Regions from separate parts of the Homo sapiens genome. Here regions 1, 3, 4 and 5 are each reported to be linked to region 2. Evidence: microRNA targets listed by miRTarBase, many of them from high-throughput screens and not tested one by one. Region 2 holds a microRNA gene; each other region holds the end of a gene's coding sequence.
Evidence for each region. The annotated mature microRNA hsa-miR-124-3p reads UAAGGCACGCGGUGAAUGCCAA and lies in region 2 at 2,838-2,859, opposite strand. An mRNA with a match to its seed (bases 2 to 7 or 8) in the 3' UTR can be bound and repressed. Matches are read on the target gene's strand: a 7mer-m8 pairs with bases 2 to 8, a 7mer-A1 pairs with bases 2 to 7 and ends in A, and an 8mer does both.

Region 1 (5,941 bases), not on the chromosome of region 2:
CTTAAGATATTTTTACTCTTCCTAGCCACAAAAACATGAGTAAAAAATTACAGCATAACTCTTACTGTAGTTTAGAATATTTCTGTGAACATTATAGTTAAATTTCTGTAGTTTTGGTAGCAGTGAAAACTTAGAATTCTGTTTGGTCCCATGGTGATACCAACTTGCGATGGTCTCTGAATAGGGCAGGCTTTCAGTCAAACAGCAGCTCCACTCGGCCAAAGAGCCTGCCCATGACCTGGCCGGGAGACTTCCCCTTCTGCACATCTTGGAGAAGGGAAGGGGCTAGACCTGCTTGACCCAGGCAGTCAAATACCCACTCAACTCAGCCAACAGCCCACTCCACAAGAGTCAGTCCTCAGTTGCACATTTCTAAGGACGTCGCCTCTGGACCCATCTGGCCAGAGCAGTGACTCCATCTAACCTCGGAACCCAGCTTGCAGTGCTGTCCAACAGCAGATCCCAAATAGTGGAATTGCCTGAGCAGGGGACCAGCATCCTGTGACCGGCCTGGGCAGAAGCCATCACAGTACCCAGCCAACAGCTCCACCGACATCCGAACAAAGACCCAGCCAACTGGAGAACTTGACAAGCACTGCGGGCCAGGGTGGTCTTCAGGTGGCCCTTGCAGAGCCACAGGCTGGACCGATAGGAAGCTTTCACTGACGAAGAATACCTGTAATGACCAGAAGAGGGGGCTGTTGCCCACATGCAGACAACAGCACAAAGACACAAGGATTACGAAGACTGGGGGAGTCGTGACGGCTCCAAAAGAAACTAATAAAGCCCTAATAAGGGAAGGTTTCCTCCATTCTCGGACGGGTGCTTTCAGGTACAAGTTAGAGTTCCAGTTTATTCTTGAGAGGCTGAAAAAATTAGCCTTATGCCATTAACCTGAGAATACGTGTTCTTGACCAGGCATCTTCAGGGTTTTCTGAAGTAGTCAGATTGTGTATTCTTTTACGTATTTGCCTATCAGACCTTCACTTAGGTGTATTCACTTAGGTGTATTTCTCTCTCGTGTTCTTTTCCAGAAGAAAATCCTCAGCAAAGTGAAGAATTGCTTGAAGTAAGCAACTGATGGCATTTGAGAATTTATGTATCACTGAGTTTTTTGGGAATATCTTCGTGGAGAATTACGCATCAAATTTGATTCTCAGAGCAATAAATTATCCATGAAGTGCTCTCGTTCTCAGTAGCGGCATCATGGCCAGTAGTGTCTTTGAGGAGTTCACCACTTAGATTACTGAGTAATTGTGGTTTCCACATTTGAAAACAACTCCTTTTATAATTATTCACTGCTTTTTGTCAGTGAAATAGACATCTTGCCTCCTGAAGTAGCTTCATCACAGAGTGTCATGAAGACAGACAGTCAGGCTGAAATGGACAGTTCTTTGTGGACTCTACCCTTCCCTTCAAGGAGTATGTCATATATCACAAAAGAAATTGCCTTACACTGGTTCATGTTTGCAGTTACTGTTGTACATTGCATAGATGTACACACGAATTTAAATGTGATGTCTTTGTATATATCTGTATAATGTTGAGATTACTTACGAAATATGTCTGAGTGACACTTTTCACCCTTGTACAGCCAAAATAATGTATATATGGAAAGTGACAGACAAATTCTCTAATCTCTTTGGTACCTATAACTTATTAGAATCCTCTGGATGAGGGTTAGAAGAGACTTTTTCCAAACTTCTACATGTAGAAGTATCATAAATGTGCTACACATTTATGTTTGTGGATTTAATTAAAGTATTTTAATATGGTTTTCAGTGCTAAAATTGGAGTCAGATACTTCTTGGTTTTAAGCTGTCTACCTAATTGCTGTCTCCCAGCAGACTGGTGGCATGCCCAGTGGCTTTGGGGGCAAGGATAGAAATGCCATCAGGAAATAGCTGAATTCATTGTGAAACATGAATTCAGTCATGGTGATAATTGGAAACTCCTTTCAGGTTTTTGCAAGTAGATTTTGTAATGTTTGTGTATGCAGCCTTGCTGTTGAGTCAGTCCAAGGGGTTTTACTTAGGACAAGTTGTACCTTGCCCTCTCTCCAGCTCTGCTCCCACATTTTCACATACCTAGCTGTTTCTACCTCATTGGGTAAGTCATTTACCACTCTGTGCCTCAGTTTACTCTGTAGTTTACCATTAGACTGTGAGCTCCTTGAGGGACTTTGTCATAATCACTGTTACATCCCAGTGCCTCACACCATGCCTGGCCCTTAAGAAGTGCTCAATAAATGTCTGAACAAATAAGTGAGTGGAGTGAGTGAATTGTAAGATCAGAATAATAATATTTGGTTTGTCTATCGTACAAGATTCCTGTATCGTTTGAATATTGCTTTTAAAGAAATATTTGAAGCGACTTCAAATTCAGACTGTGTTTAAAAAGATTTAAAATCGGAATCCAAAATCAAAGTATTAAAAAATAATGCTGAGTGTTTAGGATTCACATACCTCTGAGCTCTGGTGGCTTTTGCCAGTCCTGTCCCTCTGCTGAGCACCAGCCCTTCCTGCAGCAGTCCTGCCGGTGTGTTTCTGTGCACCTGGGGATGAAGTGTGCTCCTCCCCCAGCGGTTAGCCTCAATGCTTTTCCTCCCTCTGTTTTATTATTTGAAATTAGCCAAAGAAAAGCTGCAGGGGGCACTGCTGATCATCACTGGACTGGTGGGTCGTACTGTTTGACAGAATAGGGAATACAGGAGGAGGAGCAAGCCTAGGGTAAAACTTAGGTTTGGGACATGCTTGATGAAAGCAAGAGTTGAGCAGGTTGTTGTGTGTATGTAGGTCAGGTGCTCAGCGGAAAAGTCTGAGCTGTGTAGTACGTCAGGCAGATGTCAGTTTAGATGCGATAGTTTAAGCCACAAGAGTAGGAGAGGTCATCTAAAGAGTACAGCAGGCCTAAGGGCATCTATATTTAAGGAGAAATACAGAAGAAGTCTCCTGAGAAGGAATAATGGGGCGGGTGGGGAGGGAGAAGGCAGTGTCCCAAAAACCAACAAAGGTTTTACCAAAGGTAATACCATCATTTCTGAGCAGCAGTTCCTTAACTTGTGAATGTGGCAAATGTTCTCCTTTACAAATTGTTCTGAAGGTAAAATGAGATCATGTAAACGAAAATCCTTTGTAAATTACAGATGTGTGTTATAAATGAAGTATCTCTCGAGTCACTCCATCTTCTGGCGTTGGGTCTCTGATTCTTAAAACGGATAAAATAAGCATGAACTCGTTTCTGGGCCCCTCCTCCTCACTAACCCTAACCTTTCCAACCTCACTGTCCCATCTCTGTGCGCACCGCTTCTTCCTTCAGAAACCTTGAGCGATCCGTGTTTCCTTCAGGCCGAAGTGCAGACTCTGGATATAGAAGGGCCCAAGGCTTGCTTACCAATCCTGCCTTGGTACCTGCCTTGCAGACCTTCACCCCAGTAAATTGGTCTCATCGCTACCTGAAGCACACAGTGAACTTTCCCATCTCCCTGCCTTTGCTCTTATCCTATCCTCTTCCTGTTCTCTGTGTTTCAAAATCGCATCCCTATTCTGGACCTGGCTTCACCCATGCCTCCCCTTTACTCCTACCCTGCATGCAGTTTATACACAGCACGCAGGTGGCCATCTTCCTTCCTCATAAGTTGCTGCGGCTACGTTCCCAGCTGCCATTCCATGTTGTCAGAGTGTAAGCTCATGTCTTAATAGGTATTTCTCATATTAATGTAGTGTATGATAGGGTTTGGCTGTGTCCCCACCCAAATCTCATTTTGAATTGCAGTTCCCATAATCCCCATGTGTCGTGGGAGGGACCAGGTGGAGATAACTGAATCATGGGAGCTGTTTCCCTACATCCTGTTCTCGTGATAGTAAGTTCTCACGAGATCTAATGGTTTAATAGAGGGCTTTTCCCTTCGCTCGGCTCTCATTCTCCCTCCTGCCACCATATGAAGAAAGACGTATTTGCTTCCTCTTCCACCATGATTGTAAGTTTCCTGAGCCAGCCATGCTGAACTATGAGTCAATTAAATCTGTTTCCATTATAAATTACCCAGCCTTGGGTATGTCTTTGTTAGCAGTTTGAGAATGGACTAATACAGTAAATTGGTACCACAGAGAGTGGGGTGCTGCTGTAAAGATACCCAAAAATGTGGAAGCAACTTTGGAACTGAGTAACAGGCAGAGGTTGGAACAGTTTGGAGGGTTCAGAAGAAGACAGGAAAATGTGGGAAACATTTAGAACTTCCTAGAGACTTGTTGAATAGCTTTGACAAATTGCTGATAGTGATATGGACAGTGAAGTCCAGGCTGAAGTGGTCAAGATGGAGATGAAGAACCTATTGGAAGCGGGAGTAAAGGTCACTCTTGCTATGGAAAGAGACTGGTAGCATTTTGCCTCTGCCGTAGAGATGCATGGAACTTTGAGAGAGATGAGTTAGGGTATCTGGCAGAAGAAATTTCTAAGCAGCAAAGTGTTCGAGAGGAAGCAGAGCATAAAAGTTTGGAAAATTTTGCAGCCTGATGATGGGATAGAAAAGAAAACTCCATTTTCTGGGGAGAAATTTAAGCTGGCTGCAGAAATTTGCATAAGTAACGTCAAATGTTAATCACCAAGAGAATGGGGAAGATGTCTCCAGGGCATGTCAGAGACCTTCCAGCAGCCCCTCCTATCACAAGCCTGGGGGCCTATAAGGGCCCCCCCCCCACCCCCCGCTCTATGCTGCATTGGGACATGGTGCCCTGCATCCTAGCTTCTTCAGCTCCAGCCTTGGCTAAAAGGGACCAACATAAAGCTCAGGCTGTTGCTTCAGAGGGTGCAAGCCCCAAGCCTTGGCTTACACATGGTGTTGGGCCTATGGGTGCACAGAAGTCAAGAATTAAGGTCTGGGAACCTCTGCCTAGATTTCAGAGGATGTATGGAAACACCTGGATGTCCAGGCAGAAGTTCGCTCTCTGGAGAACCTCTGCTAGGGCAGTGTGGAAGGGAAATACGGGGTTGGATCCCCCACACAGAGTCCCGATTGGTGCACTGCCTGGTGGAGCTGTGAGAACAGGGCCACCGTCCTCCAGACCCCAGAATGGTAGCTTGCACTGTGCACCCGGAAGAGTCCCAGACACTCAACACCAGCCTGTGAAAGTAACCAAGGTGGGGGTGGGGGTATACCCTGCAAAGCCACAGGAGTGGGGCTGCCCAAGGCCATGGGAGCCCACCTCTTGCATCAACATCACCTGGATGGGAGACACGGAGTCAAAGGAGATCATTTTGGAACTTTAAGGTTTAATGACTGCCGTATTGGATTTCGGACTTGCATGGCACCCGTAGCCTCTTTGTTTTGGCCAATTTCTCCCATTTGGAATGGGTGTATTTACCCAATCCCTGTACCCCCATTGTATCTAGGAAGTAACTAACTTGCTTTTGGTTTTACAGGCCCATAGGTGGAAGGGACTTGCCTTGTCTGAGATGAGACTTTGGACTTGGAGTTTTGAGTTAATGCTGGAATGAGCTAAGACTTTGGGTGACTGTTGGAAGGGCAGGGTTATGTTTGGAATTATGAGGACATGAGATTTGGGAGGGGCCAGGGACAGAATGATATGGTTTGGCTGTGTTCTCACCCCAATCTCATCTTGAATTATAGTTCCCATAATCCCCACATGTTGTGGGAGGGACCAGATGGAGAAAATTGAATCATGGGGGCTGTTTCCTCCATCCTGTTCTCGTGATAGTAAGTTCTCACAAGATCCGATGCTTTTGTAAGGGGCTTCCCCCTTGGATCGGCTCTCATTCTTCTCTCTCCTGCCACTATGTGAAGAAGGACATGTTTGCTTCCCCTTCCACCATGATTGTAAGTTTCCTGAGGCCTCAGCCATGCTGAACTGTGAGTCAATTAAACCTCTTTCCTTTATAAATTACCCAGTCTTGGGTATGTCTTTATTAGCAGCATGAGAAT
Region 2 (5,941 bases):
GAGCCCTACCTGGAGGTGAGATCAAGGTGGAGACCAGGGGCTGCAGAATAGAGGGACTGGCTGCCCTGGCCCCTGCTGATTGTGGCCTGGCCCCTGCAGCTCCTCCCACCTCTGCTGCTCGTGGACCGGGGGATTTGGAGGAATTTCAGAGGGGACTGTGGGGCCTGTGGCTTCAGCCTCAGCAGCTTTATTAGGTTTTATTCAGAATAAAAATCTTTGGGTCAGGGAAGGGATGTCTTCCTCTGGTCCCACACTGGGGAGGGCCCTGCTGGATAGCCCTGAGCTGGCCTTGCTGGGTGTCATGGTCTGGTCAGAGGGTGTCCCAAGCCCTTGGCTCAAGTTTGCTGTCCACCAGGACCACTGCCTGGCAGCCGACCCAATGCAGGCTGGGTGCTGAGGATTCAGTTGGGGGTATGTGCCCAGCTCTTCCTGAGTGGAGGCGGGCAGTGTCTGTGTGTGCGTGGGAGGTGAGACTGTGTGAGCATGTCTGTGACTGTGGCTGCGGGTGTGAGCAGGAGGAGGAGAGGCTGAGCTGGACATGCAGGGCAGTCCATGTTGGCTGCAAAGCATGGTGATGGTGGCCCCTGCCCCAAGGGCCTCTCACTGAGGCCAGCAGCTCAGCTGCTGCAGGTCCGAGTGGACCCTGTGGCACATGGGGCCCTCCCCGCACTGCGGCAGACGGTGCTACAGCTATGGTAAGGCCTGGCCCAAGAAGGTGCGCACTCAGCTCTGCAGCTCCTTCGCAGTGAGCTTCCCCCCGTGTGCCCCATACCTACTGGGCTGCCCACCTTCCTGTGACCCCCTGAGCTCCAGCCCAGAAGCCACAAGTCTGCCCTGGGGGCTGGGGCCCAGGTGCACCACTGGGGGCAGGCATCAGGAGAGGTAGCTCCCTGACCGTGACAGAGTCCAGGAAGCTCTTCCTAGGAGACCCCACAGAGACTGACTGTCTAGGGACAGTGCCAAGGGCAGTTTGCCCATGCGCTCCCACCAGCTCTCAAGTGTCCCCCTCCCCAGGCTACTGACATGGAAGGTCCATTCTGGCTAGGAGCCAAGTCCCCTCCCCAGGAAGGAAAGTGGTACAAGAACAAAGCCCCAGCCCCCATCTCTGGCCCCAGAGGAGGGAGCAGCCAGGGGCCACCTTCCCTCCGAGGGAAGGGCCAGGCTGGAGGTCAGAGCTCCAAGAGGAAGCTCCAGCTAGGCTAGGGCCACATCTTGTACCCCGAAGGAACACCCCACTCCCACCAGTCCCTTTGGTGTTGTCCTGGAACGATCCTGGGGCCCCTTCCCCTTCTCTAGGACCAGAAGTGCCCCTGGGGGATGCTGCCTGTCCCCTCACAGCGGGAGGAAGGAAGAAGGGGACGCCAAGCCCCGGGGTCAGTGTTGTGGTCAGGCCGGGGCTTGCTGGGGCTGCCTATGCCACTTCTGTGCCCTCCAGGGGGAACCTGCCCCTGAGGAGACTGGTGGACCGTGTTCTGACTCTGCCTGGCTGACTGGGGTGGGGGTGGGAAGATGGAGGCACCAGTGGCTCCTGCTTGTGTCTGCAGCAGGCGACTTGGGTGGAGGGGCTGGAGGTCTGTGCTGAGGACAGCCGCAGAGGCAGGTTCCCTTTGTGGCCCTGCAGCGGCGGTGGTGGGGGTGGAGATGCCACTGCCTGAAACTCAAATGGTTCCTTTTATCCTGATCTTCTGCTCCCTGCCTTGGGCCTGGAGCTGGGAGAACTTCAGGTGACTCAGACTCCTGCCTCGGATTGAAGCCGGGGAGGAGAGGCTCAGCCTCTACCTGGTTAAGAGGAAAGAGGCAAAGCTGCAAAGCCAGGTCTGGCACTCGCCCCAGGGGAAGGGGGCTTTTGGGGAGGGGGTCGTCCTCTGACTGTTACCGGGGCATCACAGCCCAGCCGGGGCCTGGGATGGGCGCGGGGGAGGCGGCGCAGAGGCGGTGCCGGGCGTCAGCAGGTGGCGCTGGCTTCCGGGGACAGAAAAAAAACCCCTGCAGCAAACCCGAGTGGGTGTCACTGCGGCTGCAGATGGCGGCGGGGGAGGGATTTGTCATTTTCTCCCTGGGCTGCGGAGTCTCACGTGCCTGGTCCTGCACAGCCCAGAGCCGGCTTTGGGGGCGGGATGCGGTCCGGCGTGTCCACCGCCCTCGTTTGGACCCTGGACGCGGACGCAGACCCCCGTCCCCATGCAAGCCTGGTCCTGGGCTGCGGGGGCTGCTCTGGGGCCACAGCGAGCGCCGCCTCCGCCCCGCCCCGCGGCGCAGCGGCCCGAGGAAGGGCAGACTTAGCGGTGACCTCAGACCCTGCCCCACCTCCTCCCACGTTGCCGTGGCAACTGTCCAGGGCGCCCGCTGTGGGGGCGAGGGCCGCACTTGGCCGCCCTCCCGTCCCGCGGGGGCCGCCCCGCCGCCAGCACCGCGGACAGCGCCGCACCCTAGCCCGCCGCCCCACGCACCCGCCCGCCGCTCCCCGTGGACCCTCCCTTTGTCTCCCGGGCCCCGCCGCCCTCTGCGGGCGCCTGGGCGCTCCGCGCTGCGGACACACGTGGCCGGGGGCCGGCTGGCCGCAGCCTGGCCCCGGCCGCAGGCTCCCCCCTCGGCCGCCCTCGGCCGCCCCCACCCGCCCCGCGACGCCAGAGGCGTGCGGGCCCCTTTGTGTCCCGCGGCCAGATCCCCGGCCCGGCAGCTGGGCCGCACTCTGGGCGGGCGCATTGTTCGCCGGATTTGTCCGCGGCGCGAATGGCCGCCGGGGGCCGGGCTCGCCTTCCTCCCGCGGGAGGGGCGCTGGGCCGGACGGGCTCGCGGGCCATTTCCATGAGAAAGGAGCGGCGGAGGCGCCTCTCTTGGCATTCACCGCGTGCCTTAATTGTATAGACATTAAATCAAGGTCCGCTGTGAACACGCAGAGGGGCCCTCAGGGCTGGGGCGGGCGGCGAGCGTCGGGGCCAGGGTCGGGACCGGCTCGGGCTTGCGTGGGGTCCTCGCCCGAGGGGCGCGAACGCTCAGGCGTCTTCGCCGCGTGGCGGGCAGGGCGGGGGCGCTGCGCTCAGCCGACTGTGCTGTCCCAGTCCGCCCCCGACTCGGAGGAGCCCACACTTCTCCCCTTTCCGCGGCAGAGAGTGGGCCCCCAAGTGCGTCCCTCCGGGCGTTCCTGGAGCTGGGGCGCCCGGGAATCGCGAAGACGGATTCCGGGGGTGGGGGTGGTGAGCGCGTGCGCACCCGGCCGCCTCCCGCGGGGCTCCGAGGGGCGCAGAACCGCTCCGACTGGGCGGCGCGAGCTCCTCCGCAGCTGCCTTCCCCTGCCGTCGCCCTGCCCGTGCCGACCCAGGAGCGCGCACCGAATGCGGTTAAAAGAACGAATCTCGATGCTCAAAGATGAAAACTCGTCTCTTTTTACAACCCAGCGAGCTCGTCCTCTCCGCGCGCAGCGGGCCCGCGAGAAGGCGCTCGAGCTGTTCGTGGAGAGAAAGACGGGGAGACCCAGAGAGGCCGCTTGCCCGGCTCGCCCCGGCCCGGCCCCGAGCGTAATTACCAGTCCCGGCGGGAGCCGCTGCTGCCGCCTCCGCTCCCTGCGCCTCCCGCGCCGCCGCCAGTTCCCGCCTGCTCTTCGGCTCCCGGGGGCCCCGCGCGCTGCTGCCCTGGGCGGAGAAGGGCGCGGGAACCCCGAGAAGGGAGCCAGGCAAGTCCCCGAGCGCCGCAGGCCGGCTGCGAGCCGAGTGTCCACGGGGTCCACGCTGCAGGCGCCCAGCTCCTGCTAGCCCGGCCCGGCCCCGATGCAACTGTCCCCGCGCCCGCCGCCGCCGCCGCCGTCGCCGTTGCCTCCGCGCGTATCCGCGCTCCGCTCCGGCACCGGCCGATTATCACTGGGGCGCGCGGTGACGTCACCCGGACACCGGCCCCGCCGCTGCCTCCCCGAGGTGTCCTTGAGAACTGCGGGGCACGCGCGCCGCGCACACGCGCACACACGCACTGCGCGCCTCGTGCCTCCCGCGCATTCGCACCGCGTCCCGCCCCGCGCGCTCCTCGGCTCACGCGGACTCAGCCATCGAGCGCCCTCGACCGTGCCCTGCGCCCGGCGGCCACACGGAGACCCAAGGAAACGCCTGTCTCCCACACACTCCAGCCCCTCACATGGCCCTCCTGCACCCACGCGCGCAGCCCCTCCAGCTGCACATTGACACCTCTAGCCACACCCCGCCACGCGCACGCCTCGCCACGCGCACGCCTCGCCGGCACGCAGCCCAGCGGCACCCGCAGACACGCACCCGCACTCGGGCCCTGACCGCGGGTTCGCGTCTCCTGTCTGGCGCCTGCAGAACGCACTCTGCCGCGCAGCTCACACCGCGGTCCTCCAAGCCTCTCAGTCCTGAGAAAGGCAAGGGTCCCGCCGGCCTCCTGCGGATGGCCCTGCTGGGCTCCGTACAGTGGGGTGGGAATTAAAGGTCGTCCTTCCCCGCCCCCATCGGAGCTTGCGGTTCTCACAGTTTCAGACCGGGATGGGAGCTCTTGCCCGTAGGGACCACGGAATCACAGGCGACACTCCACGGCCCGACTGCAGTCACTGCCAGCTCGATAGGGTCCTTGGGGCGCCCCCGATCTGGCCCTCTAGGGCCAGGGATCAGTGGCTTCCCCAAGCCTCACCGTCCGGAGCCTCCCCCGCTGGCCTTTGTTTAGACTGCAAGGAGCGCAGGCCGGCGCGGCCGGCAGGCCTCTGTCCCCATCTCCTTCCTCCTAGGGCCAACCCAGCCCCTGCGCCATCTGCCCTCGGAGCAGAGCCTGGGCCTCCCTGGGAGCAGGTCCTGCTTCCTTCCTTTTCCACCCTCTCCAGCACTGCCCAGCCCATGGACAGCCGGTTAGGAAGGGCGGCAGGAACTCGGGTTGGTTCTGCCCGCACCGACTCCGCCGGTCCTCAACCATCAGGACGCCCCTCCCCCTTTGGTGCGGCTTCAACCTGACCCTTCCCAGCCGCAATTCCTCGCCCTTCGCAAGTGTCAGGGACAATCTTTCTTTCTCACAGGTCACGCACAAGCCCTCTACTCCTCCACAGCCCAAGGGGAACCTTCTGTTCCAAGCGCAAAGCTCTGGAAGCTGCCCCAAGCCTGCGGGTGCCGGCAGCCTCAGCAGGTGCAAGCCGGACGCTGGAGGGGCTGGAGGGCTGGGGAGGCCAGGCTGCAGCAGCCCCGCTTCATTGGAGACAGTTGCCCTTGGCCTCCAGTGGTCGGAATCGGACCCTCACCCTAATGAAACGGGGGCAGTCCCCAGGGCGGTCCTAGGCTCCCAGTCTGAGGCATCCGCTGTCCATGGTGTTGAAACGGAACCCTGAAACCTCCGCCTCACTTTCGGACTTTATACCCCCAGCCCTCTTCTCACCAAGGGTTGGGGCCAGGGAGGCCGGCTCCCGGCCCCCTCCCCTCCCGTCCCCCACCCTTAGCTTCCTGGACGGGTCCAGGACGCCTCGGGATTCCAGCTCCTTGGAGCTTGTTCCCATTCTAAGGGGAAAGACTCCTTAGCACCCCCCATCGGTACCTTGGCTTCGGGGACCCCAAATCTTTCTTTGGGTCTCTTTTCCGTACAGGACCGGCTCCACCTGGGGCAGGGTGGATCGCCGCCCCTGGCAGACCTGTTCCCTCACCTGGCGGAGCACCTTCGTCCTTCCCACTTTACCTTTGGCGGAGGGCTCTCTGGCAGGCCGGGGTGGGTAAGGTGGAAGGCTGGGGGTCGCCCCCTTCCCTTGGGTCACCCTAGATTTTTGTACATCCCTAGAAGAACCCGGCCCCTCTTGGAGTCCTGAGTAGCGATCGGGGTCCCCGGCTCCCCACTTCCACCCCCGGTGTGCAGCGGCCCCCAGCCAGGCGGGCTGGGGGAAGGGCCGTCCAGGGCTTGGGGGCGGAGCCGGCCGGTAGGAGCCGCGCGGGAAGGGGAGCCCGCCTGCAGCCTCTGCCCCGCC
Region 3 (5,941 bases), not on the chromosome of region 2:
CCAGGCGTTCAAGACTAGCCCTGGCAACACAGTGAGATCCCATCTCTACAAAAATTAAAAATAAAGAAAAAATGAGGGCCGGGTGCAGTGGCTCACGCCTGCAATCCCAGCACTTTGGGAGGCCGAGGCAGGTGGATCATGAGGTCAGGAGATCAAGACCATCCTGGCTAACACGGTGAAACCCCTGTCTCTACTAAAAATACAAAAAAATTAGCCGGGCGTGGTGGCGGGCACCTGTAGTCCCAGCTACTCAGGAGGCTGAGGCAGGAGAATGGTATGAACCCGGGAGGTGGAGCTTGCAGAGAGCCGAGATCACGCCACTGAACTCCAGCCTGGGCGACACAGCGAGACTCCATCTCAAAAAAAAAAAAAAAAAGAAAGAAAGAAAAAATGAGGCATGGCAGCACGTGCCTGTAGTCCCAGCTACCTGGGAGGCTGAGATGGGAGGACCACCAGAGCCCAAGAGGTTGAGACTGTAGTGAGCTATGATCGCACCACTGCACTCCAGCCTGGGCAACAGAGAGAAACCCTATCTCAAAGAAAAAATATAAAAAAAAAAAAGAAAGAAAGATAATATTCCAGTAAAAGTCCAAGTTTTTTTTTTACTTTCCCTCTCCACCACCTCCCCTAGAAGCCTCCACCCACAAGCCCATCCATTCTGTTTTCCACTTTTTTTTTTTTCTTTTTGGAGTCAGAGTCTCGCTCTGTCGCCCAGGCTGGAGTGCAGTGGCACGATCTTGGCTCACTGCAACCTCCTCCTCCTGGGTTCAAGCGATTCTCCTACTTCAGCCTCCTGAATAGCTGGGATTACAGCTGTGCGCCACCACGCCCAGCTAATTTTTGTATTTTTAGTAGAGATGGGGTTTCACCATGTTGGCCAGGCTGGTCTCGAACTCCTGGCCTCAAGTGATCTGCCTGCCTCAGCCTCCCAAAGTGCTGGGATTACAGGCATGAGCCACCATGCCCGGCCTCTGTTTTCCACTTTTGCACACATATCCACAGATCCGTGATCATGATACTGAATATTCTTCGATCTGATTTTCCTTTTTAATTCGCATAGGCCAGAGTTCAGCAAACTGTTTGTTGTAAAGGACCAGACAATAAATACTTTCGGCTGGGCGTGGTGGTTCACGCCTATAATCCCAGCACTTTGGGAGGCCGAGGCGGGCGGATCACAGTGTCAGGAGATCGAAACCATCCTGGCTAAAGCGGTGAAACCCCGTCTCTACTAAAAGTACAAAAAATTAGCCGGGCATGGTGGCAGGTGCCTGAAGTCCCAGTTACTCAGGAGGCTGAGGCAGGAGAATGGTGTGAACCTGTGAGGTGGTGCGGCTTGCAGTGAGCTGAGATCGCGCCACTGCACTCCAGCCTGGGCTACAGAGCGAGACTCCGTCTCAAAAAAAAAAAAATTTACTGTATTCCATTGTCAATATATCTTTGACACTTTCACAAGTCAACATATGTGTCATGTATGATATTCCAAAACAGGCATTGCTACCTTAAAATGTGGTGGTTATAAGCACCGTGGAGAGAACTTGACTCTTTGAGTCCAATTTTTTTTTTTTTTTTGAGACAGAGTCTCGCTCTGTTGCCCAGGCTGGAGTGCAGTGGCGTGATCTTGGTTCACTGCAACCTTTGCATCCTGGGCTAAGTGATTCTTGTGCCTCAGACTCCCCAGTAGCTGGGATTACAGGTGTGTGCCACCACACCCAGCTAATTTTTGTATTTTTAATAGAGAGGGGGATTTCACCATGTTGGCCAGCCTGGTCTCGAACTCCTGACCTCAAGTGACCTGCCCACCTTGGCCTCCCAAAGTGCTGAGATTACAGGCGTGAGGCACCATGCCTGGCCTGAGTTCAAATTACTACTCAGCTATTAGTAGCTGAGGTGGGGCTGAGGGTGGGCTCTCTGGATTACACCTCATTTTCCCTGGAGATAATAGCATCTATCTGATGGGATTGGGAAAAAGATCGGGTGAGAGCCAGGTGCAGTGACTCTCACCTGTAATCCCAGTGCTTTGGGAGGTTGAGTGGGAGGTCGCTTGAGCCCAGGAGTTTGAGACCAGCCTAGGCAACATAGCAAGACCCACATCTGTGTGTGTGTGTGTGTGTGTGTGTGTGTGTGTGTATAATTTAGCTGAGTGTGGTGGTGCACGCCTGTAGTTCCCAGATACTCAAGAGGATGAGGTGGGGCCAGATGTGGTGGCTCACACCTGTAACCTCAGTACTTTGGGAGGCCGAGGTGGGCAGATCACTTGAGGTCAGGAGTTTGAGACCAGCCTGGCTAACATGGTGAAACCCCATCTCTACTAAAAATACAAAATTACATCCTGGCTAACACGGTGAAACCCTGTCTCTACTAAAAATACAAAAAATTAGCCGGTTGTAGTGGCAGGCACCTGTAGTCCCGGCTACTCGGGAGGCTGAGGCAGGAGAATGGCGTGAACCCAGGAGGTGGAGCTTGCGGTGAGCCGAGATCGTGCCACTGTACTCCAGCCTTAGCCGGGCGTGGTGGTGCACGCCTGTAATCCCAGCTACTCGGGAGGCTGAGGCGGGAAAACCACTCGAACCTGGGAGGTGGAGGTTGCGGTGAGCTGAGATAGTACCACTGCACCCCAGCCTGGGCAACAGAGTACAACTCTGTCTCAAAAAAGAGCGAAAAAAAAAAAAAAAAAGGCTGGCATAGTGGCTCACGCCTGTAATCCAGCACTTTGGGAGGCCGAGGCGGGCAGATCACTTGAGGTCAGGAGTTCAAAGCCAGCCTGGCCAATATGGCAAAACCCCGTCTCTAGTAAAATTCAAAAATTAGCCGGGCATGGTGGGGCACGCACCAGTAATCCCTGTGGCTGTTGGTTATAGGGAGTGGATTCCTATGTAACATTCATTGAACTGTCCCTTTAAGATTCATATACTTGGGTGCATATGAATTCAACTTGAATATGGATTAACAAAGAGAAAGTAACATGTGGTTGGTGATGGGGGAAATGAACCCTCTCAGGACTTAGGGTGGGAGTGAAAAGACTGACAATGATTTGGGCAACAGTCCAGCAGTATTTAGTAAGACTGAGAATGTATCTTCTCCATGTCCCTGGGAGAAGTCCCTGAAGTTCCCCTTCTCTGTAGCTACCGTAGAGAAACACTGTAGATTGTCACTTGGATTTTTTTCCGAGATGGTATCTTGCTCTGTTGCCCAGGCTGGAGTGCAGTAGTGCGATCTTGGCTCACTGCAGTCTCAAACTCCTGGGCTCAAGTGACCCTCCCACCTTACCATGCCTGGCTAACTTAAAAAAAAAAAATTTGTGTAGAGATGGGGTCTTGCTATGTTGCCCAGGCCAGTCTCAAACTCCTGGCCTCAAGTGATCCTCCCACCTCGGCCTCCCAAAGTGCTGGGATTACAGGCGTGAGCCACTGTGCCAGGCCTGCCAGTGTCTTGATCTTGGACTTCCCCGCCTCCGGAACTGTGAGAAATCAATTTCTGTTGCTCATAAATTACCCAGCCTGGCCAGGCACTTTGGGAGGACGTGGTGAGAGGAACGCTTGAGCTCAGGAGTTCAAGATCAGCCTGGGCAACATAGCAAGACCCCGTCTCTACAAAATAAATAAATGAATAAATAAATTACCCTGCCTAAGATATTTCTGTTCTAGCAGCAGGGACAGATGAAGACACACACACGTACACACATGGCCTGTATGCAGTTGTGGGTGAAGTTTATTAAGGCAATACTGAATACCAGAGCATTTCAACAAGGCTTACCACACAGGCCCCAGTACCTTTCTACTCTACAATGAGGCTCAGAAGCTCAGTGTACCACCCCATCCCCAGGAGGCCCACTTAGACCAGAAATCCCAAGTCCATTAGCTACAGGCTGATATTCAGGGACATCGGTGTAAACAAAGAAGTGGGATATGAACTATATCCCTGATTTTTTTTTCTTTTTTTTTTTTTTTGAGACTAAGTCTCACTCTTGTCCCCCAGGCTGGAGTGCAATGGCGCGATCTTGGCTCACTGCAACCTCCGCCTCTCAGGTTCAAGAGATTCTCTTGCCTCAGCCTCCTAACTGGGATAACAGACACCTGCTACCATGCCCGGCTCATTTTTTTTTGTATTTTTAGTAGAGACGGGGTTTCACCATGTTGGCCTGGCTGGTCTCGAACACCTGACCTCAGGTGTTCCGCCCGCCTCAGCCTCCCAAAGTGCTGGGATTACAGGTGTGAGCCACCGCACCCGGCCTATATTCCTGATATTTAACAAGGAAAAAAAATTCTGCAGGGGAGAACTTTCCTGAAAGATATTTTTTCTGGACATCTCTCTCTACTGACTGATAGGGTGAGGCTCAGAACAGGCTTCTTCCAAGCTCAGAGAGGCTGAGAGATGGGTCAACTGGGTGATGCCCGTTTTGAGAGCCTTAGCTTCCCAAGTGGACAGCACAGAAGAGCTGGGAGGAGTGGCTAGAAAATAAGTTTGAAATGAGCCCCGGGTTGAGGACTCCAGAGCACAGCTGCATTATAGAGACGGGGCCCGCTGAGTCCTCTCCTCTCCCCCTACTTCTTCTCCTCCGGGGCTTTCTCAGTGATTCCAGGGGCAAAGGGTCCCACGAGCCACGTGACAGGTGTGTTCTGGGCCACATATTCCACCATGTGGTCCAGGGCCTCGCGGGCGCTGGCGACACGCTCACGGCTCTGGGCCAGAATGCTGCTGGACAGGTCCTGGAAGGAGTGGATGCTGGAAAACGTGGCCTGGAGGTCCTCCACCTGGCGGCGGGCCTGCTGCACCTGGTCCTTCACATTGGTGGGGAGGCCCTGAATGCTGGACCCCAGGGAGGTACAGGTGGCCTGCAGTTGCTGGGCAATGTCCCGGAACATGGTGAGCGCCCGGGACTCGACCTGCTGAGAAGGGAGATGGGGACACCAATCAGGACCATTTGTTTCAGGAAAGGCGATCGGAGCTGAAGCCAGGGAAAGAGGGGAAGAGGGGTTCTACCACTGACCTTGGGGCAAACGCTTTCCATAGGCGAAACTTTTTTTTTTTTTTTTGAGACGGAGTCTCGCCCTGTCGCCCAGGCTGGAGTGCAGTGGCACAATCTCAACTCACTGCAAGCTCCGCCTCTCAGGTTCGCGCCATTCTCCTGCCTCAGCCTCCCGAGTAGCTGGGACTACAGGCGCCCACCACCACGCCAGGCTAATTTTTTGTATTTTTAGTAGAGACGGGGTTTCACCGTGTTAGCCAGGATGGTCTTGATCTCCTGACCTCGTGATCCGCCTGCCTTGGCCTCCCAAAATGCTGGGATTACAAGCGTGAGCCACCGTGCCCGGCCCTTTTTTTTTTTTTTTTTTTTGAGATAGAGTCTTGCTCTGTTGCCCAGGTTGGCGTGCAGTGGCATGATTTTGGCTCACTGCAACCTCCGCCTCCCAGGTTCAAGCGATTCTCCTACCTCAGCCTCCCGAATAGCTAGGACTACAGGCGCGTGCCACCACGCCCGTCTAACTTTTGCATTTTTAGTACAGATGGGGTTTCACCATGTTGGCCAGGCTGGTCTTGAACTCTACCTCAAGTGATCGGCCCTCCTTGGCCTCCCAAAGTACTGAGATTACAGGCATGAACCACCGCGCCCAGACTCTTTTCTTTTAATTAGAAACAGGATCTCACTTTGTCGCCCAGGCTGGAGTGCAGTGGCGTGATCATAGCTTACTACAGCCTGTAACTCCTGAGCTCAAGTTATCCTCTCATTTCAGCCTGCCTGACTACAGGCACTCACTACCACGCCCAGCTACATTTTTAAAATTTTCTGTAGAGCCAGGATCTCACTAAGTTGCCCAGGTCTTAAACTCCTGGGCCCAAGTGACCTGCCCACTTCAGCCTCCCAAAATGCTGGAATTACAGGCACGAGCCACTGCATTTGGCCACTAGTCAAATTCTTTAAAGGGCATAGACAAATCACCAA
Region 4 (5,826 bases), not on the chromosome of region 2:
TCACCAGGACAGTAGAAAAACGCTGTCGCTAGCTAGGCGTGGTGGCAGGCACCTGTAATCCCAGCTACTTAGGAGGCTGAGTCAGGAGAATCACTTGAACCCAGGAGGCATAGGTTGCAATGAGCCGAGATCGGGCCGCTGCACTCTAGCCTGAGGGACAGAGCCAGACTCTGTCTCAAAAAAAGGAAAGAAAAATGCTGTGGGGCTGGGCACGGTGGCTCATGCCTGTAATCCCAGCACTTTGGGAGGCCAAGGCAGGGGATCACTTGAGGTCAGGAGTCCGAGACCAGCCTGGCCAACATGGTGAAACCCTGTCTCTGCTAAAAAATTCAAAAATTAGCCAGGTATGTTAGCACGTGCCTGTTATCCCAGCTACTCAGGAAGCTGAGGCACGAGAATCGCTTGGACCTGGGAGGAGGAGGTTGCAGTGAGCTGAGATCGTGTCACTGCACTCCAGCCTGGGCAACAGAGCGAGACTCCGTCTCAGAAAAAAAAAAAAAGAAAGAAAGAAAAGGAAAAAAATGCTGTCAAGTCAGGCTCAGAGGCACGCGCATGCAGTCCCAGCTACTTGGGAGGCTGAGGCAAGAGGATCACTTGAGCCTCAGATTTCAAGGCCAGCCTGGGCAACATAGTGAAACTATCTCTAAAAAAGAAAAGAAAAATGCTGTCAGAAAGAAGATCTTGAGAAGTTTCACTTCAACAGGCAGTGAGATTACTAGTCCCAAACATAAACAACATCATAGAAGAAGTGATGGGGGCACAGATGAGGAGGCTTTTCATTTGTCTCAGCATACATCTTCGAGGAAAAAAACTGGCCGGGCGCGGTGGCTCACACCTGTAATCCCAGCACTTTGGGAGGCCAAGGCGGGCAGATCACCTGAGGTCAGGAGTTCTAGACCAGCCTGACCAACATGGAAAAACCCCGTCTCTACTAAAACTACAAAATTAGCCAGGCATGGTGGTGCATGCCTGTAATCCTAGGCTGAGGCAGGGAGACTGAGGCAGGAGAATCGCTTGAACCCGGGAGGCAGAGGTTGCAGTGAACCAAGATCACGCCACTGCACTCCAGCCTGGCCAACAAGAGCAAAACTCGGTCTCAAAAAAAAAAAAAAGAAAGAAAGAAAAAGAAACAGGAAAAAAAAAAGCCAGTGTAACCACCCAAAAATATTAGGACCAAATTTAAAACACTTTGAACAAGTAGAAATATTCAGAGTATGGAGGTGAATACAAAGGCAGCCTGGTGATGTGAGAAAGAGCCTAGGCTGTGGAGCCCATCACTTCTGGGGCTGAATCCTGATTCTGGTCCTCACCAAGGTCGGGGCTGGGTCAGGCCCAACCTCCAGGGCCCGCTTTCCTGCCTGTAAAACAGGGATGATGTTTAGCTCACAAGCATTAGAGATGGTATGTGTGGAAGTACATAGCAGTGTCTGGCCCACATTGGGCACTACGTAAATAACAACTAATATTATCGTTTATGTGTTCAACAAACTGAAAAACAATGTTCACAAAAACAGGACAGTACTTTTGAAAATTCTAAGGGTAGGCCCAGCCCTGGAACCTATCAGCAGCGTGGCCTTGAGCAAGTAACTTAACCCCCTTATGCCTCCATCCTATCCTGTTCAATGGAATTCATGCTATTGCTAACTCTTGGAATTACTGTGAAGATTAAACGTGTTAATATAGCTAAGAACTTAAAACAGGGCACACGGCTGCTGGGTAGAGTTCCCACTGTGCCACCAGGTCAGAACACCTTTTTCCTTCTCTCCCTTAGAGGATACATCCTGAAGATCTCGGGTATAGACCCGAATGCCTGCTGCTTAAAAAGCTTCAATTCCGGCCAGGTGCGGTGGGTCATGCCTGTAATCCCAGCACTTTGGGAGGCCGAGGCGGGTGGATCATGAGGTCAGGAGTTCGAGACCAGCCTGGCCAATATGGTGAACCCCTATCTCTACTAAAAATACAAAAATTAGCTGGGCATGGTGGCGGGTTCCTGTAATCCCAGCTACTTGGGAGGCTGAGGCAGGAGAATCGCTTGAACCTGGGAGGCAGAGGTTGCGGTGAGCCGAGATTGCGCCATTGCACTCCAGCCTGGGCAATAGAGCGAGACTCCATCTCAAGAAAAAAAAAAAAAAAGAAAAAGTTTCAATTCCCTCCTCATTTAACCTTTTCCCCATTTAACCAGACGATCAATTCTTATACCCTTAAACCACTCATCATCACATCATTATGAAATTATTGACTCCTTTTTTTCCCCCCACCAAATGCTCTATCAGGAGAAAAGCCAGTTAGCTGTCACCCCGACAGTTCTGAGTTTTGGGGTCACAAATGTCTCTACTTTTCATTCAACCCACTCTGCTATCAGGGAGGAGACAAGCCCCTCAATCAACAAATCTAAGTCACAGATAGCAGGAGACCCCAGACCCCTTCTATTAGCTTTGGATTTAGGCCCTGTCTCCCTGCTAGGGTGAAGCTGCCATCAGCTGAGAGGCGCTTTGGGCAGGCTGGCTTTTCAGGTGTGCAAACTGTGCAGGGCTGTGGGCTCAGAAGGGCCCTATATTGGTTTAAGGCTCTGCCGTTGCTGTTTGAAATTATTTTATGTTTTTTTTTTTTGAGACAGGGTCTCACTGTGTCGCCCCAGGCTGGAGTGCAGTGGTGCGATCTCAGCTTACTGCAACCTCCGCCTCCTGGGTTCAAGCGGTTCTCCTGCCTCAGCCTCCCACGTAGCTGGGATTACAGGCGCCCACCACCATGCCTGGCTAATATTTGTATTTTTAGTAGAGATGGGGTTTTACCATGTTGCAAAGGCTGGTCTTGAACCCCTGACCTCAGGAGATCTGCCCACCTCAGCCTCCCAAAGTGCTGGGATTACAGGTGTGAGCCACCACACCCAGCCTTTTAAATTTTTACTTTTTAATAGAGGCCTCACATTTTTAGTTTGCACTGGATTCCATGAGTTGCATAGCTGGTCCTGGTCAGGCGTGATGACATCAAGCTTTTATGTTGGTATCTGTGGGGTCACCTGAACAACCTGACCCCATTTATTCAACCTTCTGCTGAGGCAGAGTAGCTAAGGCCACTTCTTAAATTGAAAGGCTCTTACTTTAAATACATTAATCAAAAATGACATCAGATGAAAAAATATACTTGAAAGAATAAAAAGGAACTGATAAGTTACCTCCTAAGAGGAAGTAGTACTTTTTTTTTTTTCTTGAGATAGAGTTTAGCTCTTGTCACCCAGGCTGCAGTGCAATGGCGTGATCTCGGCTCACTGCAAACTCTGCCTCCTAGGTTCAAGCGATTCTCCTGCCTCAGCCTCCCGAGTAGTTGGGACTACAGGCGCCCGCCACCACGCCCAGCTAATTTTTTTATTTTTAGTAGCGACGGGGTTTCACCATGTTAGACAGGCTGGTCTCAAGCTCCTAATCTCAGGTGATCCACTCATCTCAGCCTCCCAAAGTGCTGGGATTACAGGCTGAAGAATTACTTTTTACTACATAGCCTTTAATATTATTCAATGTTTACCATCTCTATATATAACCTTTCAAATGAATTTAAGATTTTCAGTCAACATACCAATTAGTCTCTATCTCTCCACCAAGTCTCTTGTTTCCAGAGCAGCTGTCTTTGGCCAGCAAATGTACCGTAATGGATACAACTGTTTTACACTGCTTCAAAGAGCCCTGAAGAGAAATTACTCCCCATCAGAAAAACTTTCTGATGGGAAATTTAACAGAGAAAGAACCAATAATAGGAGCTGCACAATTTAGTTGGTTCCCTGTTGCTTTATAAAGACTATTTGGGGCAGGCACGGTGGCTCACGCCTGTGATTCCAGCACTTTGGGAGGCTGAGGCAGGTGAATCACCTGAGGTCAGGAGTTTGAGACCAACCTGGTCAACATGGTGAAACCCCATCTCTACTAAAAATCCAAAAATTAGCCAGGCGTGGTGGTGCATGCCTGTAGTCCCAGCTACTTGGGAGGCTGAGACAGGAGACTCCCTTGAACCCAGGTGGATGTTGCAGTGAGCGAAGATCACGCCACTGCACTCCAGCCTGGGCAACAGAGCAAGGCTCCATCTAAAAAAACAAAAACAAAAAAACACAACTATTTGGATATAGCTGCTGCTTTGGACTTGAAACAATGGCATTTTTCTGTGAACACTCAAGGATAAGAAATTCATGAACAGAAAAAGCAATAACTGGCTCCTGCTTACTTGCAGGGTTAAGAAATGTAAACTATAATACACTATATATTTGGTGATAGCATCTCACACCTCTGAGCTTTGGACCCTTTCTTATTTATTTTTATTATTATGTTTCTGAGACAGAGTCTTGCTCTGTCGCCAGGCTGGAGTGCAGTAGTGCGATCTTGGCTCACTGCAACCTCCACCTCCCGGGTTCAAGTGATTCTCCTGCCCCAGCCTCCCGAGTAGCTGGGATTACAGGCATGCACCACTATGCCCAGCTAATTTTTGTATTTTTTTTTTTAGTAGAGATGGGGTTTCACCATGTTGGCCAGGCTGGTCTCCATCTCCTGACCTCATGATCCACCCGCCTCAGCCTCCCAAACTGCTGGGATTACAGGCGTGAGCCACCGCAGCCGGCCCCCTTAATTTATAATCACCTTACTCATGATGAATTCCTGGACGTAATTTATCATCATCCCTCATTTATAGAGTTAAATATAGAAAAAAAAAGTGCCCATGCAGAATATATAAGAAAGCCAACATCTAGAAAGGGACTGAAAAATGCTCCTGGTCATTGGTCCAAAAATTATGAAAAAATCTTTTCCTTCTTAATCTCCAGTCAGGGACCAACAAGTCCTCGTGAGCAGCCACAGGAACCACAAGCGCTGGTTCAGTCCAACAAGGCAGGGAGGCCTCAGAAGAAAGTCCAAGCCTCATACAGACCTGCACTGACCACCCTGGAGAGATCTACCAATTCCAGGAAGAGCTCTTGTCTGAGAATAGGTGCTAAATGAATTTACATAATGATGGAGTGTGTACAATTTCTAATCAAGATATTGGCAATTTTGCCCAGAGAGAACATAATCTGAGATGCTTGCACTAACTTGTTAGCAAAATACCCATTTATTAAGAAAAAGTTGGTGTCCTTTGCTACCAAAAGGGAAGAAAAGGGGAATAAAACAAATACGTAGTTACTAGCAACAAAATAAGACAAACTAATCAGAATGCTGTTTATTGACAAGATAGGGTGTCACAAATACATCATTTATAGGGAGAGAGGGGACATGAACAAGTCCAAAATCTTATACTCTGCACAGCAGCCCAGCAGGGATGTCCTCTCTAGAGATGGTTTATCAAGGGTACCCCATGAGAGGGCAGCTCCTGATGCAGCTGCCGGAAGAGCATCGCACACCGGTTCCTCTCCTGGGTCTTCCCCAGGGTATGGTAGAGTCTGGCCTGGAAGTAAACGACGTCCCTGATGCGCTCTTTGCAGTCAACCTTTGCAAAATAGTTCTTGGCTTCATTGAGGTTCTCGATGGCAGCCTCCAGAGCTGACGGAAAGGGGAAAATAACACACACATTTAACTCAACCCTTCACGTATAGTTTTCAAAACGTGGTATTTAGTTTTATTTGTTCAACAACTACCAGAAGATTCTTTTATATTCTCCATTCTTTGAGAGAGAAAAAACAAACCACTAGGGTGAGGTTTTCAAAAAGGTCTTTAAGACTGGGCGAAGTGGCTCATGCCTGTAATCCTAGCACTTTGGGAGGCCGAGGCGGGTGGATCACCTGAGGTCAGGAGTTCGACGCCAGCCTGGCCAACATGGTGAAACCTTGTCTCTACTAAAAATACAAAAATT
Region 5 (5,817 bases), not on the chromosome of region 2:
AATTTCATTCAAATGGTTCTCACATGAGAGTAACTAGCATCTTTCTCTCAGATGATGAAGATGATGAAGAGGAAGATGAAGAGGAAGAAATCGACGTGGTCACTGTGGAGAAGCGGCGTTCCTCCTCCAACACCAAGGCTGTCACCACATTCACCATCACTGTGCGTCCCAAGAACGCAGCCCTGGGTCCCGGGAGGGCTCAGTCCAGCGAGCTGATCCTCAAACGATGCCTTCCCATCCACCAGCAGCACAACTATGCCGCCCCCTCTCCCTACGTGGAGAGTGAGGATGCACCCCCACAGAAGAAGATAAAGAGCGAGGCGTCCCCACGTCCGCTCAAGAGTGTCATCCCCCCAAAGGCTAAGAGCTTGAGCCCCCGAAACTCTGACTCGGAGGACAGTGAGCGTCGCAGAAACCACAACATCCTGGAGCGCCAGCGCCGCAACGACCTTCGGTCCAGCTTTCTCACGCTCAGGGACCACGTGCCGGAGTTGGTAAAGAATGAGAAGGCCGCCAAGGTGGTCATTTTGAAAAAGGCCACTGAGTATGTCCACTCCCTCCAGGCCGAGGAGCACCAGCTTTTGCTGGAAAAGGAAAAATTGCAGGCAAGACAGCAGCAGTTGCTAAAGAAAATTGAACACGCTCGGACTTGCTAGACGCTTCTCAAAACTGGACAGTCACTGCCACTTTGCACATTTTGATTTTTTTTTTAAACAAACATTGTGTTGACATTAAGAATGTTGGTTTACTTTCAAATCGGTCCCCTGTCGAGTTCGGCTCTGGGTGGGCAGTAGGACCACCAGTGTGGGGTTCTGCTGGGACCTTGGAGAGCCTGCATCCCAGGATGCTGGGTGGCCCTGCAGCCTCCTCCACCTCACCTCCATGACAGCGCTAAACGTTGGTGACGGTTGGGAGCCTCTGGGGCTGTTGAAGTCACCTTGTGTGTTCCAAGTTTCCAAACAACAGAAAGTCATTCCTTCTTTTTAAAATGGTGCTTAAGTTCCAGCAGATGCCACATAAGGGGTTTGCCATTTGATACCCCTGGGGAACATTTCTGTAAATACCATTGACACATCCGCCTTTTGTATACATCCTGGGTAATGAGAGGTGGCTTTTGCGGCCAGTATTAGACTGGAAGTTCATACCTAAGTACTGTAATAATACCTCAATGTTTGAGGAGCATGTTTTGTATACAAATATATTGTTAATCTCTGTTATGTACTGTACTAATTCTTACACTGCCTGTATACTTTAGTATGACGCTGATACATAACTAAATTTGATACTTATATTTTCGTATGAAAATGAGTTGTGAAAGTTTTGAGTAGATATTACTTTATCACTTTTTGAACTAAGAAACTTTTGTAAAGAAATTTACTATATATATATGCCTTTTTCCTAGCCTGTTTCTTCCTGTTAATGTATTTGTTCATGTTTGGTGCATAGAACTGGGTAAATGCAAAGTTCTGTGTTTAATTTCTTCAAAATGTATATATTTAGTGCTGCATCTTATAGCACTTTGAAATACCTCATGTTTATGAAAATAAATAGCTTAAAATTAAATGATGCAACTCAACCTTTTCCTTAATGGCATTACACTCTGTCCCTTAAGGAGCAACCATAAATAATCCATAACCTATAGAGGGAATTTGGTTTCCGTAAATAGCCCTTTTTGCACCTGTACAATCCTGGTTGGGGGGCATGAGTCATTGTCCCCACTTAAGGTGGAGGGAACTGAGTTTGGGGAAATTAAGGCAGTTCTCCAAGATTATGCAGAATAGAGATGTTATTAGCGACTATTGTGTGCATTGTAGCAATGGCATTTGATAATTTACAGAGCACTTCTGTATACTGTGGCTCCTTAGTGGAATTAAGCTGAGACCTCAGATCAGTCCCTTTAAAAGAAAAGTAAAAATAGCCACAGGGTTGTTTAACTCGCTTGTATTGGGCTTTGGTAGTATTCGTCCCATTGGCAGACAGTCTTCTATTTTAAGGTAGAGCATAGTTTGTCTCCAAGAATTCATTGTTAAAAACATTCACTAGGATCTGTGGAGGTTCTAGGCTAAGCAGAGTAAGCAGAATAAACAGATGGAAATGGGTTCCTCCCTTCAATGAACTCAACCTGATTCACCAAAGTGTAATTCACGAGTGACAGTTACGTAGTCCAGAGCAAGTACCAGGTGCAGGAGAGACCCTGGGGTCACAATGGAGACCCCATATGGGTGGCATGGCTCTCTACTTGCCATTCCTATTACACAGCAGTGTCTTGGCTACTTGGGCTGCCCTTTGGAAATGGGATCAATCTTGCAGGCTCCAGAAGACAGAGCCAAGACTTGTGTGTTAAGGAGATAGTTTACCTGTTGGGACATAAGAGCCTTGCTTGTAAGCAGCTTCTCAGAACTAAAAGTGTACAAATAACCTATTTCTCTTTTGAGTGTCAGGTTGTACTCGGTTATTTCTCTAGGGTTTTGTTCATCTCAGATTTTTAACTGTGAGCCGAAAAAAAAGAAAAAGGCCTTTTGCTTCACTGAGAAGAAAGCAGGTCCAGAGATGAGACAGCTTTGCTTGCCTGGACACACAGTTTGTCAGGGGCAGAGATGGGAGACACCAAGCCATGTGTCCTTGTCTGCTTTGGTCATTTTTATTTGTTTCTTTTGAGATGGAGTCTCACTCTGGTGCCCAGGCTAGAGTGCAGTGGTGCAATCTCGGCTCACTGCAACTTCCGCCTCCCGGGTTCAAGCGATTCTCCTGCCTCAGCCTCCTGAGTAGCTGGGACTACAGGTGTGTGCCACCATGCCCGGCTAATTTTTTGCAGTTTTAGTAGAGACCAAGTTTCACCATGTTAGCCAGGATGGTCTCGATCTCCTGACCTTGTGATCCACCTACCTCGACCTCCCAAAGTTCTGGAATTGCAGGCGTGAACCACCATGCCCAGCCGCTTTGGTCATTTTATAAAGGCAAGTAGGAGTTTAGAACTCAGTCCTCCTTATCCTGCTTATCGCACACCCTTGAGATACGAGGTTGGTGATACTACCATGGACATCTTTCTGATGGTCTCGCCATGTAGAAAATAAGATAAAATGCCCTTTAATTCTCCTAGTCCCCATCCCCAGACTAAAAAATAATGCACCCTTTCTTTTTGAATTGTCATTCAAAAAACTTCCGTTCGTTTGCATTTTACAGGCCCCAAATCACTCACGGCCTCTGCCCCTGTGTGTGTGCAAGAGCCAAAAGAAAGTTAAGCAACCTCACATTAATTGTGTACCTAAGATTCTTGAAGCCCAGCTCAGTCATCCCAGTTTCTCTATTTGTGATTACCATAAGGAACCTACCTGAGTGTGTCCAATGAAATGGAATGCTTAACCGTGAAGAAAGAAAACTGTTCATATGAATGAGGCCACTAAACTACAATTCCTACTATGCTCTCTTTTTGCTCGGGCTGCTGGGAAGCTCAGAGCCAAATTCCACCCCCTCTAACATCTCCAGTGGTCATTCTCTTCTAAATGTTTACGGTTTCTTGTTTTCCATTGTTAGGTTAGTCATCTTTTTAATGTATATAATGTAGTATATAACATGAAACGTTTTTGCATTAGGTGGACCACAAATATGCACCTAAAGGATTAAAACTAAAGTGAAAAAATCCCATATTTGCCTTTTCTGACCTAGCTGAGGGAATGTCACCAAATTTAGCTCTGCAATTATCTATAAAGTAATTGCTGTAGTCACAGAAGAATTGAACTAGTTGTTTCAATAACATGAGAAACCATCTCTGCATTCCAAGAGCAGTTTTGAGACTGGGAAAGAGCTCTACATCATTTAGTTCAATAAACGATAGAGCTGAGACGAAGCACAGAGATCATCTCATTGAAATTCATTTCTCAGAATGAGGGTGCGGGATCCCACCTGGAATTAATGGCTTAACCCAGGGAGACTAGAGCCGGTGTCTCCTATGACCCGCCCAGTGCCCTTCCCCATAACATTCACTTTCTCATTGCCCACACTGTAGCCTCCCCACCTCCTGGCCTGCCCGTCCACCTACATCATGCTTCCATATTAACCCTTCTAAACCACCTACTCTTTATGCAAACTTCCAACAGTTCCCTACTATTTACAGAATCGAGTCCCGACTCTCCAGCCCAGCACAGAGGCACTTCTACCCAGTCCCACCAGCTCCATTGCCCATGGCCCTCCATGTGCTGGACTCTGGCTGTTTCTCATCCGTGACTTGTTTCACCACATCCCTCCTTCTAGGTTACCCAGATTCCATTAATTGAAATCCTTCTCAATCTTGCACCCCCAGGTAGGCCTTTCCCAGCCCTTGGCCTCTGTGCACTTATCTTCTAGCTGCCTTATGCACCTCCTGGACCCCCTAAACTGTGGGCTCCCTTAAGGCAGATAGGGCTCTCATTTGCCTCTGATTCTGAGCATCTGCCCTGTGACTGACAGGTGACAGAGCCTTAGCAGATGCCAGCAGTATAGACGGTAACAGAGGAAGGAGCGAGGAGAGGATTTCCATTATGGGTGGGTCTCCCACCAACTCCAGTTCACAAGCTCTCAGGCTAATTCAGATGGGAAAAGACATCCCTTAGACATCAATGAGTGTCTGGTACTGACTATGCTGGCAGTTCTGAAGAAGTGAAGATAAAATGCTCATAGAGGACTGTCTACAAGGAGCCCACAGTCTGCAAGAGAGTTAAAGCCCTGGGGGTTGTATAGAAGGCAAGAAGAGAAACCAAGAGGCACTGGGTTGAGGGGCTGATGAATGAAAGCATATGAGGGGCCTAGTGGCTGAGTTTGGGGCTATCTGAAGGAGGAAGCTGGTCCTCTGCCTGGGTTCACTGAGTCTACGCCTGGCCTGGCTTGTGGCAGCTCAGACACTTGCCTCAGGCCACAGATGGTCTACACTCGTAGTGAAAAAGGTTGCAATGCCTCCCACCCCTGTGTAGCACTGCAGAGCTTCCCAAGTTTTTGTATGCATGAGTCTCAAAAATCCTTGAGGATTTTTGACCAGTTTATCACATTCCCACATTATAAGTGAGGGAATCTGGTCTTCTGAGTTTTAGTTTCATTAATCCCTATGGTGGCTATGTTTTGAAATTCTGATGTGAGTTGTTTTCGAAATCAGAGGTTGTTTGATTTGGAAGAGGCATAGAAGCCAACTAGTTTACTCTCCCATTTCAGGGGAGGCACCTACAGTCTGCTTGTGAGAATTTTATTTTTCCTTTATTTTATTTTTCTTTTTTTTGCAACAGGGTCTTGCCGTGTTGCCTAGCCTGGCGTGGAGTGGCTAATCTCAGGCACAGTGCCACTGCTGATCAGCACAGGAGTTTTGACCTGCTCCATTTCTGACCTGGGCCAGCCAGTTCATACTTCCTTAGGAAACCTGGTGGTCCCCTACTCCCAGGAGTTGCCATATTGATGCTAAACTTAGTGTGGACATCCAGTAGGCATAGGGTGCTACAGCTCAGAACTTCTGGACTCAAGTGATCCTCCTGCATCAGCTTCCTGAGTAACTCGGACAACAGGTGCACACACACTGCCGTGCCTGGAAGCGTTCTTTTTTCTTTTTTTCTTTCCCTCTTTCCCATTCTTTCTCTCAACAAATATTTATTTAACAGTTACCATGTATCAAGCACTGTTCTAAGTGCTTGGGAGACATCAATGAACAAAAAAGACAAAACTCTCCCAAATCTTCTCTGCTTTCTTGAAGTTTATAGTGTAACAGAGAGTGACAGCTGTACAAATAAACATAATAAGCAAATAAATTAAACAGCATCTAATATGGTGGCAAATGCCGTAAAAAATAAGTAGAAAGGC

Region 1: miRTarBase lists E2F6 as a target of hsa-miR-124-3p. Seed matches in the 3' UTR shown: 7mer-A1 at 1,448-1,454.
Region 3: miRTarBase lists PLIN3 as a target of hsa-miR-124-3p. Seed matches in the 3' UTR shown: 7mer-A1 at 3,713-3,719.
Region 4: miRTarBase lists ANAPC5 as a target of hsa-miR-124-3p. The part of its 3' UTR that is shown has no 7-base or 8-base seed match.
Region 5: the mRNA of MYCN is a reported target of hsa-miR-124-3p. The part of its 3' UTR that is shown has no 7-base or 8-base seed match.

The regions. Positions count from the first base shown.
Region 1 is chr2:11,441,617-11,447,557 of GRCh38, reverse strand. E2F6 (E2F transcription factor 6) reads left to right here. Exons shown (of 7, transcript NM_198256.4): 7 at 1,035-3,183. The coding sequence ends at 1,081. Among named protein-coding and RNA genes, the nearest start is that of E2F6, 22 kb to the left of the region's middle.
Region 2 is chr20:63,175,470-63,181,410 of GRCh38, reverse strand. It overlaps MIR124-3 (microRNA 124-3), which reads right to left and starts at 2,911; the gene lies at 2,825-2,911. RefSeq lists a silencer at 2,127-2,416 and an enhancer at 2,704-3,664.
Region 3 is chr19:4,834,651-4,840,591 of GRCh38, forward strand. PLIN3 (perilipin 3) reads right to left here. Exons shown (of 8, transcript NM_005817.5): 8 at 3,691-4,886. The coding sequence ends at 4,542. Among named protein-coding and RNA genes, the nearest start is that of TICAM1, 5.9 kb to the left of the region's middle.
Region 4 is chr12:121,303,176-121,309,001 of GRCh38, forward strand. It overlaps ANAPC5 (anaphase promoting complex subunit 5), which reads right to left. Exons shown (of 17, transcript NM_016237.5): 17 at 5,070-5,516. The coding sequence ends at 5,305. Among named protein-coding and RNA genes, the nearest start is that of CAMKK2, 9.4 kb to the left of the region's middle.
Region 5 is chr2:15,945,442-15,951,258 of GRCh38, forward strand. MYCN (MYCN proto-oncogene, bHLH transcription factor) reads left to right here. Exons shown (of 3, transcript NM_005378.6): 3 at 52-1,563. The coding sequence ends at 656. It also overlaps the pseudogene RN7SL104P. Among named protein-coding and RNA genes, the nearest start is that of MYCNOS, 6.7 kb to the left of the region's middle.